Linked DNA regions of Homo sapiens. The protein of the gene in region 2 interacts with the protein of the main gene of each other region in a pairwise test. Each region holds a gene or a part of one and is shown on either strand. Other genes may lie near its edges. The genes, in order: CPSF2 and SYMPK.

Evidence for each region.
Region 1: the proteins of SYMPK (region 2) and CPSF2 interact in binary tests that used the Homo sapiens proteins (3 or more experiments, as listed by UniProt).

What each region holds. Positions count from the first base shown.
Region 1 is NC_000014.9:92,166,969-92,172,645, reverse strand, and holds the end of CPSF2 (cleavage and polyadenylation specificity factor subunit 2), read right to left. Parts: 3' UTR 501-5,677; downstream 1-500. UniProt on the Homo sapiens protein: Component of the cleavage and polyadenylation specificity factor (CPSF) complex that play a key role in pre-mRNA 3'-end formation, recognizing the AAUAAA signal sequence and interacting with poly(A) polymerase and other factors to bring about cleavage and poly(A) addition.
Region 2 is NC_000019.10:45,814,910-45,818,667, forward strand, and holds the end of SYMPK (symplekin), read right to left. Parts: intron 3,238-3,758; coding exon 3,050-3,237; intron 2,066-3,049; coding exon 1,889-2,065; intron 1,706-1,888; coding exon of another isoform or gene 1,669-1,705; coding exon 1,573-1,668; intron 1,275-1,572; coding exon 942-1,274; intron 789-941; coding exon 651-788; 3' UTR 501-650; downstream 1-500. Other genes in the region: RSPH6A (radial spoke head protein 6 homolog A), read right to left, coding at 1-267. UniProt on the Homo sapiens protein: Scaffold protein that functions as a component of a multimolecular complex involved in histone mRNA 3'-end processing. Specific component of the tight junction (TJ) plaque, but might not be an exclusively junctional component. May have a house-keeping rule.

The DNA.
Region 1 (5,677 bases), on a different chromosome or scaffold from region 2:
GAGCTTTCCAAGGAATTATTTGTCCAGGGGCATATTATTCCTCCCACTACAAATTATTAAGATTGAATAGCTGACTGTTTAATAAAAGAACACCTCAGCACTCAATACAGCTAACTTGGTCCTGACACTCCTAAAACTTAAGTGGGTGGATGATCCAAATGAACTGACAGGCAGTTTTGTTTTGTTTTTGCAAGGACAGTTATAAAATAATATTAACACATTACTTAAGATCTCTAACTGTGAATGTGTCCTGGCTCAGACAGCATTTCGGATTCAGACGGCTACTCCTGCCGTACCCATTTCTCCTCTCAATATTGGGTTTACGCCTTCTTCCTTTTCATCTTTTCCTTCCTAACTCCTCTCCACAATGATCATTATTTTGTCTGACGCCTGCTTGAACATTATGTATAAGGCTTTACTATAGAATAGAAAGTCATCAGGAAAACATTTTAACAAAATAAGCAAGACAAAAACCCAAAGACTATACACAGTCCAGGACAGACCTTCAGAATCTGTTTATTTCACAATTGCTAGAGCACCATGTGAATTGGAATGCCTGCTTTGGCACTGCCATCTGAGCCAAAAGTGCCTTCTTTAAAATTCCCACTGTGGGGTTCAACTGGCAGGTGCTGTCATGGATCGAGGAAAGGGAGGAAACTTGGTCCTCACAGCAGTGATGTACGGTAGGGGGTGAGGGGCAGAGATGGAGCAAAGGAGCCAGCCACGTGGTCAGGAGGTTGGTTAATCACAGGGAAAATGAACAAATAAGCCAATGTATTGGAGACTCTGGAAGTCCAGTTTTTAAATATAGGGTGGAGAAGATACAATTGTGGAAAGGGAGAAGACTAGAATAAACTCTGTGGAGTAGATGTGAAATAGGTATCAGTGTGTACTTGTTTTTAATATATATATGGATGGATGAGGTAACAAGCATAGACGCATATATTTCCAAATTTGTCCACTGGGAGAACGCACAGTGGCAATGCTAGCACAGGGGCAATGAGCACAGCCTTTAGCATCCGGATCTTGGTTTTAAATACCATTCTCCACTAATATGAACCAGGACTCTTTGGAGAAATGGCTGATGTCAGGAGCGGGGTAGGGAAAATAGAAGACGAGCCTGGAACATCTTGTGGTGCCAGAAAGCAAGGAAGTGCTCAATGAACCATGGGGTATGTCCAAAGGACACAGGAGCTAGCTGGAAAGTGCTCTCGCTAGTCAAATCTTGGACAATGGGGGCATCAAAATAAATCATAACTTACAGATGATAAAACAGGGACCCATGTTCTATACTGATATAAATATTGAATAAATGGGGAAGAAGAGACCCCGTTTCTACAAAAACTTTAAAAATAATCTGGGTGTGGTGATGCATGCCTGTAGTCCCAGCTAACTCCAAAAGCTGAGGGGAAAATGGCATGAGCCCAGGAGTTTGAGGCTGCAGTGGGCTATGATCTCATCACTGCACTGTAGCCTGGGCAACAGAGCAAGACACTGTCTCAAAAGAAAAGAAAAGAAAAGAAAACTACCATTTGGCAATAACTGATCCAGACAAGGATCATCAATGGATGCTAAAAGTAAAGGGTAAAATTTTGAGAAATAGGATATTGAGAGTCTCAAAATAGCTACCCACAAAATACGTAATTCCTCATTAATTAATACCTGTAATAATCATTTCACTATGGATACATATACCAAAACATCATGCTGTACTTTTTAAGTTTATACCAAAAAACAAATACAAGTGGAGAAAATACTAACAGTGGAGAAATCTTGAAAACATCGTAACCAACTGTTAAAAATTAACATCACCAGTAATGGAAAAAATTGACATGATGTGCCTCCTGATACAATGCAGAGAAGAAGACAGCATCACCTCTCTGGTATTCCTGCCAAAAATTCACAACCTGAATCTAATCTTGAGGAAATATCAGACAAACCCAAAGTGCACATCATTCTACAAAGTACCTGGCCTGCATTCTTCAAAAATGTCAAGGTCACAAAAAAGGAAAAACCAAGGAACCGCTCCAGATTGAGGAAGACTAAAGGGAAAATGTAACTAAATGCGTGCTTCATCCTGATTGGACTGTGGACCAAAAAAGGAAAGGGTTATTGTAAGGATATTTTTGGAGTAAATGGCAACATTTGAATGGGGTTCGTGGATCAAATGGTAGAATTTTATCAATGCTGGTTTCCTGATTTTAAGTACTGTGGTTATGTAGGAGTGTCCTTGTTTTTAAAAAGTATACACTTAAGTATTTAGTACTAATGGGACATCACAATTGCAACTTAGTAACAAACAGTTCAAAAAATAATGTGAATACATAGCTAGAGAGTGGTATGGAAAATATGGCAAGATGTTAACAATAGAAGAATCTAGGGGAAGGATATACAGGATCTTTTGAACTATTCTACTTTTCTGTAAGTTTAAAATTATTTCAAAATAGTTAACAAATAAGACAAGTAGTATTTGAGCTGTTAGGAATTTGTCACACTGAGATTTTTGTTGTTTTTGAGACAGGGTCTCACTCTGTCACCCAGGCTGGAGTGCAGTGGCGCGATCATTAGCTCACTGAAGCCTCAATCTCAAGGGATCCTCCTGCCTCAGCCTCCTGAGTAACTGGGACTACAGGCATGAGCCACCACACCTGGCCAATTTTTCTGATTTTTAATAGAGATGAGTTCTCACTATGTTGCCCAGGTTGGTCTCAAACTCCTGAGCTCAAGCAATCCTCCTGCCTTTAGCCTCCCAAGGTGCTGGGATTACAGGTGTGAACCACTGTGCTGGGCCTACACTGATTTTTATACTATTAGAAAAATCTCTACTTAACGGTTTCATTATCTTAGGTAAAAGTATTCAATAGAATAGCTGAAATAAATGTGAAGCTTTTCTTAATAGGCAGTAATTAGATAAAATGAACAACATTCTCAATCCTCCTCATGCCACATAATTCTCTCCCTGCAAGTTTGTCTCAAAAAAAAAAAAAAAAAAAAAATCACATATAAGAAAAACCTTAAGAATTTGAATTTGGTTTTTCCTTATAACTGATAAAGAATTTACACAATCTCTTTAGACATTTATGTTTTGATATTTAAATATGAAATTTCAACTATACCATGACCTATGGGTGAAGTTGGAAATTATAGTAACCTTATAACTTCGTCATCATCTACATAATTTGATACTTTATAAAAGTATAATTCCACTACTTGTATTTTAGTTATAGTCTGATATTAAATAGTTAATGTAAAATTAAAAAATCAACCACGGTAGCAAATGTTTGTCCTGAGAGGGTTTTTAAAGTCCTTTTTCTTTTTTAGGGGGTGTGGGGGGGTCATGTAGTAACAAGTGGCAATGCCACATGAGGCTGAGACCACAATGTGTTTCTAAAATAATTTACAATATTCCTAACAAGCTTATTAAATAGACCTGAAGAGAAATGAAGTTCCAAAAATATTTAAAACAAGGGCAGTGGCAGCACCCTTGGAATAAAGTTTCCCACAGAGTTACGTCTGATAGTTTTGACTGTACAGTATGTGCTTCTTTTTGTTTTTAACATAACAATTGTCAGAGAAAAAAGAAAACACCTATGATACATTGGATATTAAAGTCAACATAACCTCAGAAAATGAGGTAGGAAGGCCTCACGAGTCCTTTATATATTCTCCACTTGAAATTATCATTATCAAAAATTTTAGTAGGATCATGGAATCCTTAACAATTTCACAAAAAAAGCACATACATTTTTGGTTCTCTTTGACTATATGGAGAGAGAAAGAGAGATGGATTCATTCATTCAAGACTCAGTGCAGTCTCAACCTCCCCAGGCTCAAGTGATCCTCCCACCTCAGCCTCCCAAATAGCTGGGACTACAGCCACCATGCCCAGCTAATTTTTCTATTTTTTGTAGAGACAGGGTTTTACCATGTTCCCCAGGCTGGTCTTGAACTCCTGAGTTCAAGCAGTATGCCTGCCTTGGCCTCCCAAAGTGCTGGGATCACAGGTGTGAGCCACGGCGTCCAGCCACGAGGAGAGATTTCAAACTCTCCAAACTTCTATTTTGCTCTTTGGAATCCCATTTTGACTTCAAGAGCTAAAATGAAATGGAGTGAATAATGAACGAAAAGCACCAAAAAATAGAGCTGTGTGTGCATGTGCGTATAGTGGTGGGGAGGAAAAGGGAAAAGCCAAGAAGATACCCTCACTTCCAGCAAAGCCCTGGGTTTTTAAATTTTGGTAATTTTTGGTATTTTCCCATAAACACAAAGTGCTTCAAGTGAGACAAAAACCAAAGAGGAGGTAAAAAAATAAACATTTGCTTGGAACTTGCCCACGTGGGAAGATTTGAATGTTCCTTCTCTAGCCGCTCCCCCTGCCCTTTTTTTTTTTTTTTTTTGGAGACAGAGTTGCGCTCTGTCGCCCAAGATGGAGTACAGTGGCGTGATCTTGGCTCACTGCAACTTCCGCATCCCGGGTTCAAGCGATTCTACTGCCTCAGCCTCCCAAGTAGCTGGGATTATAGGCACCCGTCACCACACCTGACTAATTTTTCGTAATTTTAGTAGAGATGAGGTTTCACCATGTTGGCCAGGCTGGTCTGGAACTCCTGACCTCAGATGATCCACCCGCCTCGGCCTCCCAAAGTGCTGGGATTACAGGTGTGAGCCACCACGCCTGACCTTAGTTCCCATTATTGAATCCAAATTCATTCTACATTCATTCTATGGTTACCAGAAAAAAAAAAAAAAAAAACCTGCAATTAACCTCTCAATCACTGAATTACTACCCACTGTTTATACCCTTTAAGTGATAATCAGTCCATCAATATTTTAAAGGACAATAATCTTCTGATAAAACTCTAGACTCTTACATTAATCAAAGAAAAGTACAGAAGAAGATAAGATTTACTCTTTCTCCCCCGACCTTTACTGGACACAGTATAGAATAGAAATCAATCTATTTCTCAGCATGCCACTGTCCTAAATAACAGCTGCCATTCTTAGAGAAGATAAACTGAACATATCACTCCTAAGCAAAGTGAATGTACACTAGGGAACCAAAGCAATAATGCAGTGTAGAAGCAACAATGGATTCTCTAAGACTTGGTTCCAATCCCAACTCTGCCTTTAAACAGCTGTGTGGATCTCAAGCAAATCCCTTTCCTTGTACAGGGTCATTCATTCAATACTAAAATAAGTGGGTTGAATTAGATGAGCTCTCTAGTCCCTTTCAGCACTAACATTAAAAGACTCTAAGTTATAAATGTCAACTGCTTTTTACCTCCTATTAAAAATGAGTGGGCTTTTTTGCAGAAATTGGTAAGCTGAATCTTAGGCTGAGTATGGTGGCTCACGACTGTAATCCCAGCACTTTGGGAGGCTGAGGCAGCCGGGTTACTTGATGTCAGGAGTTCGAGACCAGCCTGGTCAGCATGATGAAACCTCATCTCTATTAAAAATACAAAAATTAGCCTGGCATGGTGGCACGCGCCTGTAGTCCTAACTACTCTGGAGGCTGAGGCAGGAGAATCTCTCGAACCCAGGAGGCGGAGGTTGCAGTGAGCTGAGATTGAGCCATAGCACTCCAGCCTGGGTGACAAAGCAAGATGCTATCTCAAAAAAAAAAAAAAAGAAAAAAAAGAAATCGATAAGCAGAATCTAAACTCACATGAAAATG
Region 2 (3,758 bases):
AGATGGGTACTCCATGCCACCCAGCCGGGCTTCCTCAGCCTGGAAGACCTGGGGCATCAGCAAGTTCTCCTGTTGGGACAGGCTGCCCCTCTGTGACCAACCAGGGGCGTTTCGCTGGGCGTCTGGAGGTATCTGCTGCCTCTCCTCGGGGTCCGCTGCCAGGGCCTGAGCTTGGTCCCGACTGTGCCGCCTCTGGGAGGCCTGAGAAGTCCTCCGGCCCGGAGGCTGCTGGGCAGGGCGCTCAGGGTAGGGCGGCAGGTCTCCCATGGTTCGCCAGGAGGCACAGATCTCTAGGAGAAAGGCTTGCAGACAAGGAGGCCAAGCGAGAGCCACCTGTCGACACCGCCGGTTTCTGAGCACCGAGAGAGGGGGCCGTTACCCGTGGAGGGCGCGGGGAGCGGGCCAGGGTGGGTTCCGCGCAGGCTCTGGGCGCGCACTCCCGATCCCGCGCAGCCCCACGGTGGACGTCGCGCCAGACTCGAGACGGCACCCGCGCCCCAGGCCCGCCATCCCTTTTTTTTTTTCTTTTCAGTAACTTGCCCAAGTTCACATCTTTTATTTCTTTTTAAGGCAAAGCACCCGCAGGTCAAGCCCCGCCCCGTCCCCCAGCCCCGAGTCCCTGTCCCACCCCCTTTCCCCCTCGAGCCCCGTCAGCTGTTCCCCTTGGCCTCGGGTTCCCTGGCGTCCTCGGCAGCCGGGCTGGGAGTCTTCATAGCATCTTCTCCAACAGGTGCGAGGGTCTGGGGGCTCCGCTCCTCCTTCAAGGTCAGCCCGCCCGCTGCCGTCTCCTGGTGACCGGGGAAGGAAAGGGCAGCCGGGTGGAGGGCGCGGTCACCTCCACGCTCCCCTTCAGGCCCTGCCCCCTGATGGCCCCTCCTCCCCCACCTTCACCCCGGCCCAGATCCGGCTTCTTCCTTCGCAGCGGAGGCTGCTCTCCCTACCTTGGGTAGGGGGCCCTCGAGACTAGAGTCCAACAGCGCGGCCTCGGTCAGCCCCGAGTCGTCATCCATGCTGATGAAGATGCCCGGGGTCTCGCACTCAGGCCCCTCCTCCCGGAAATCCATGGCTTCCTCAGACGGGGGCGGGCCTGGCCGGGCCGACGGAGAGGGAGAGGGGGAGGAAGAGGAGGGGGCTCCCACTCCTCCCGGCTTCAGCTTCTGTTCCTCCTCCAGCTGCCGCTTTAAGGCCTTCTCCTGGGCCAGTCGCAGGCCGATGAGGTCCTGAGGGGGCCGGGGTGCTGGGGCCGGGGCCAAGGTCAGGGGCTCCAGATCATCCTGGGGATAGGGAGGGCCACACAGAAGCTCAGAGGTGGGTGGCTCAGAGGACGGCCGGAAAGAGAAGGAACCACCCTGAGGTGGTCTTTGAGTTCTTCACCAAGAGCATGGGGAGGAAGGGGCAGTTGTCCCCCAGACCCCCAACTCCCAGCAGGAGCATCCCCTGGGAGACGGGTGGCCCAGAGGCAGGGGTGGCCTGAGTCTCTCGGGGTCAGGAGGAGGCCATGGTGAGCCTTGCTGGCTTGGGGTAGGGGGTGGGAGTCTGGGGATCCAGATGGGTGGGCTGCAGGGCCCTCACCTCCTCCAAGGGCCCCGCAGGCGCCTCCTTGGCCTCTGGCTCCTGCTTGCCGCTGGCCTCCAAGATGGTCATGATGGAGTTAGGGATGTGAGCTTGCTGGGTGGAGAGCAGGAAGGGGGCGCTGGGGGCAGCTCTGGCACAGAGACCCCATTTGCACACCTCAGGTCCGGGGGCCCTAACCCTCCAGAACTCCCAGCAGTGCAGGGCCTTCTTGTGTCCGCCTCCATCCAGTCCCCACCAACCAGAGGGACCCAGGGGGCCGCCCACCGCACACCCTGGGTGGGGGGAAAGGGTACCTGGTGGGGGGAAGGGGTACCTGGTGGGGGGTGAAGGAGCGGACATGGGCCAGCAGGGGCTCCCGGAGCTCTGGGCACTTGTCAAAGACGGCTCCCAGCTGCTGGGGCGGCAGCTGCAGGATGACCTGGAAGCTCTGGGGCTTTGTGCGCTGGCAGCACTTGATGAAGCCCTCCCACACCTTGGGGTACTTCCACACCTGAACCAGGGAGGGAGGGAGCCGTCGGGAGAGGCACACAGGCATCCCCCCGAGCCTTGACACTGGGAGAAAGACCTTGCCAAGACCATGCCCAAATCCCACCATCCAAGATTCCTCTGGATGGGCAACAAGCAGCCCCGACCTCCCTCCAGAGGCCTTTGTCTTCCCGATCCAGGCGGCTGGACCACGAGGGCAACTTGGGAAGGGGGTGGAAGAAAACTCAGCCGCCTTTTACCAGAGCTCCCCCTGGGCCAGGCCCAGGCTAAGTGCTGCGGGAGCACCTCTCATGACATTCTCACGGCAGCCTCCAGGGGGCGAAATTACCCCTGCTAAACAGCGGAGGTCCGTGCCGGTGCCGGGACCTGTCCTGGGTCACATGTACATTCTCACCGCAGCCTCCAGGGGGCGACATTAGTCCTGCGGGGTTTGGTTTTTTTGTTCTCTTTTTTTTTTTTTTTTTTTTTTTTTTTTGAGAGATGGTCTTACTCTGCCGCCCAGGCTAGAGTGCAGTGAGTGGCGCGTTTCTTCCTCACTGCAGCCCCAAACTCCTGGGCTCAAGCAGTCCTCCTGTCTCGGCCTCCCAAAGAGTTGGCATTACAGGTGTGAACCATCACACCTGGCCTTATCGTGGTATTTCTAAAGCCCAAATTTCTAGCACCTCTTAAAAAACTGGGCCATTTTTCAGCTCTGGGATGCATCCTGGCCGGGCACACAGCGGTGGAGGGTGAGGAGCAGCCATGCCTCTCCCGGGTGCACACCCCTTGAGGGTTACCACAGCTCCTACCACCCAGCTGCCCTCCCTCATCACCTGGGAGCTGGCCCAGTCATACACCCTGGAGCACTGCTATTTTCTTGGCAGGAGGCAGAGCAGAGCCTGCTGTCCTCCACCGGGCTCCCTCCGGGGTCAGACGGGGGAAGGGGAGGGCAAGCAGGCTAGAAGCTGCTGTCTGCAGCCTGGAGGCGGGGTGGCCGGGGATGGGTTACCTGCTTCATGATGAGGCGGGACAGGATGTTCATGACGAAGCCCCCCAGGCGGGGGTACATGGTCAGGGACTGGATGACGGTCCTCATGAGCAGCATGGGCAGGGGGCTCTGCTCCATCAGCTGCTGCATCACCACGGCCAGCACCTCTGACGTGTACACGTTCCGCTCCGCAAAGCACAGGTTGGTGGCTGCGAGGAGGCGGAGAGTGGGCCTGTCCTCTCTGCCCAGCTGCCCCCTGGGAGGTGGGAGTCCCGGCCTCTGCTGTCTGCCCATGTGAGGGGAAGACTTCTAAAGCCCTGACTTCTAAAGCCCCTGCGGGAGAGAGGAGACTCCCCCGACCCAGCAGAAGGCACACTGCAAGCCCCGCCCTTGGAAAACCTGCAGGCTTGGTTCAAGGGAGAAGACATCCAACTCCAGGAAGCCCCAAAATGGGTGGAACAGGGAACCCGTGGCCCCTCACTTTAAGGACGACCTTGGGAAAGATGTGTTGCCAAGCCCTGGGGGAGTGGCAGGGCCCCCCACCCCTGCTAGGGAGGGAAGGCAGCTATTGGTTTCTACCAGCCCCTCCAGAGAGAACAGCAGTCCACAGACCAGCTTGTCAGAGGGCCAAGGGACTGCCCACCCAGTCCTGACAAGGATACAGGGCTTGCGCTGGTGCTGGGAAGATGGGGGGTGCCAGGCTAAGGGCTGTGTTGGGCATATGGGCACA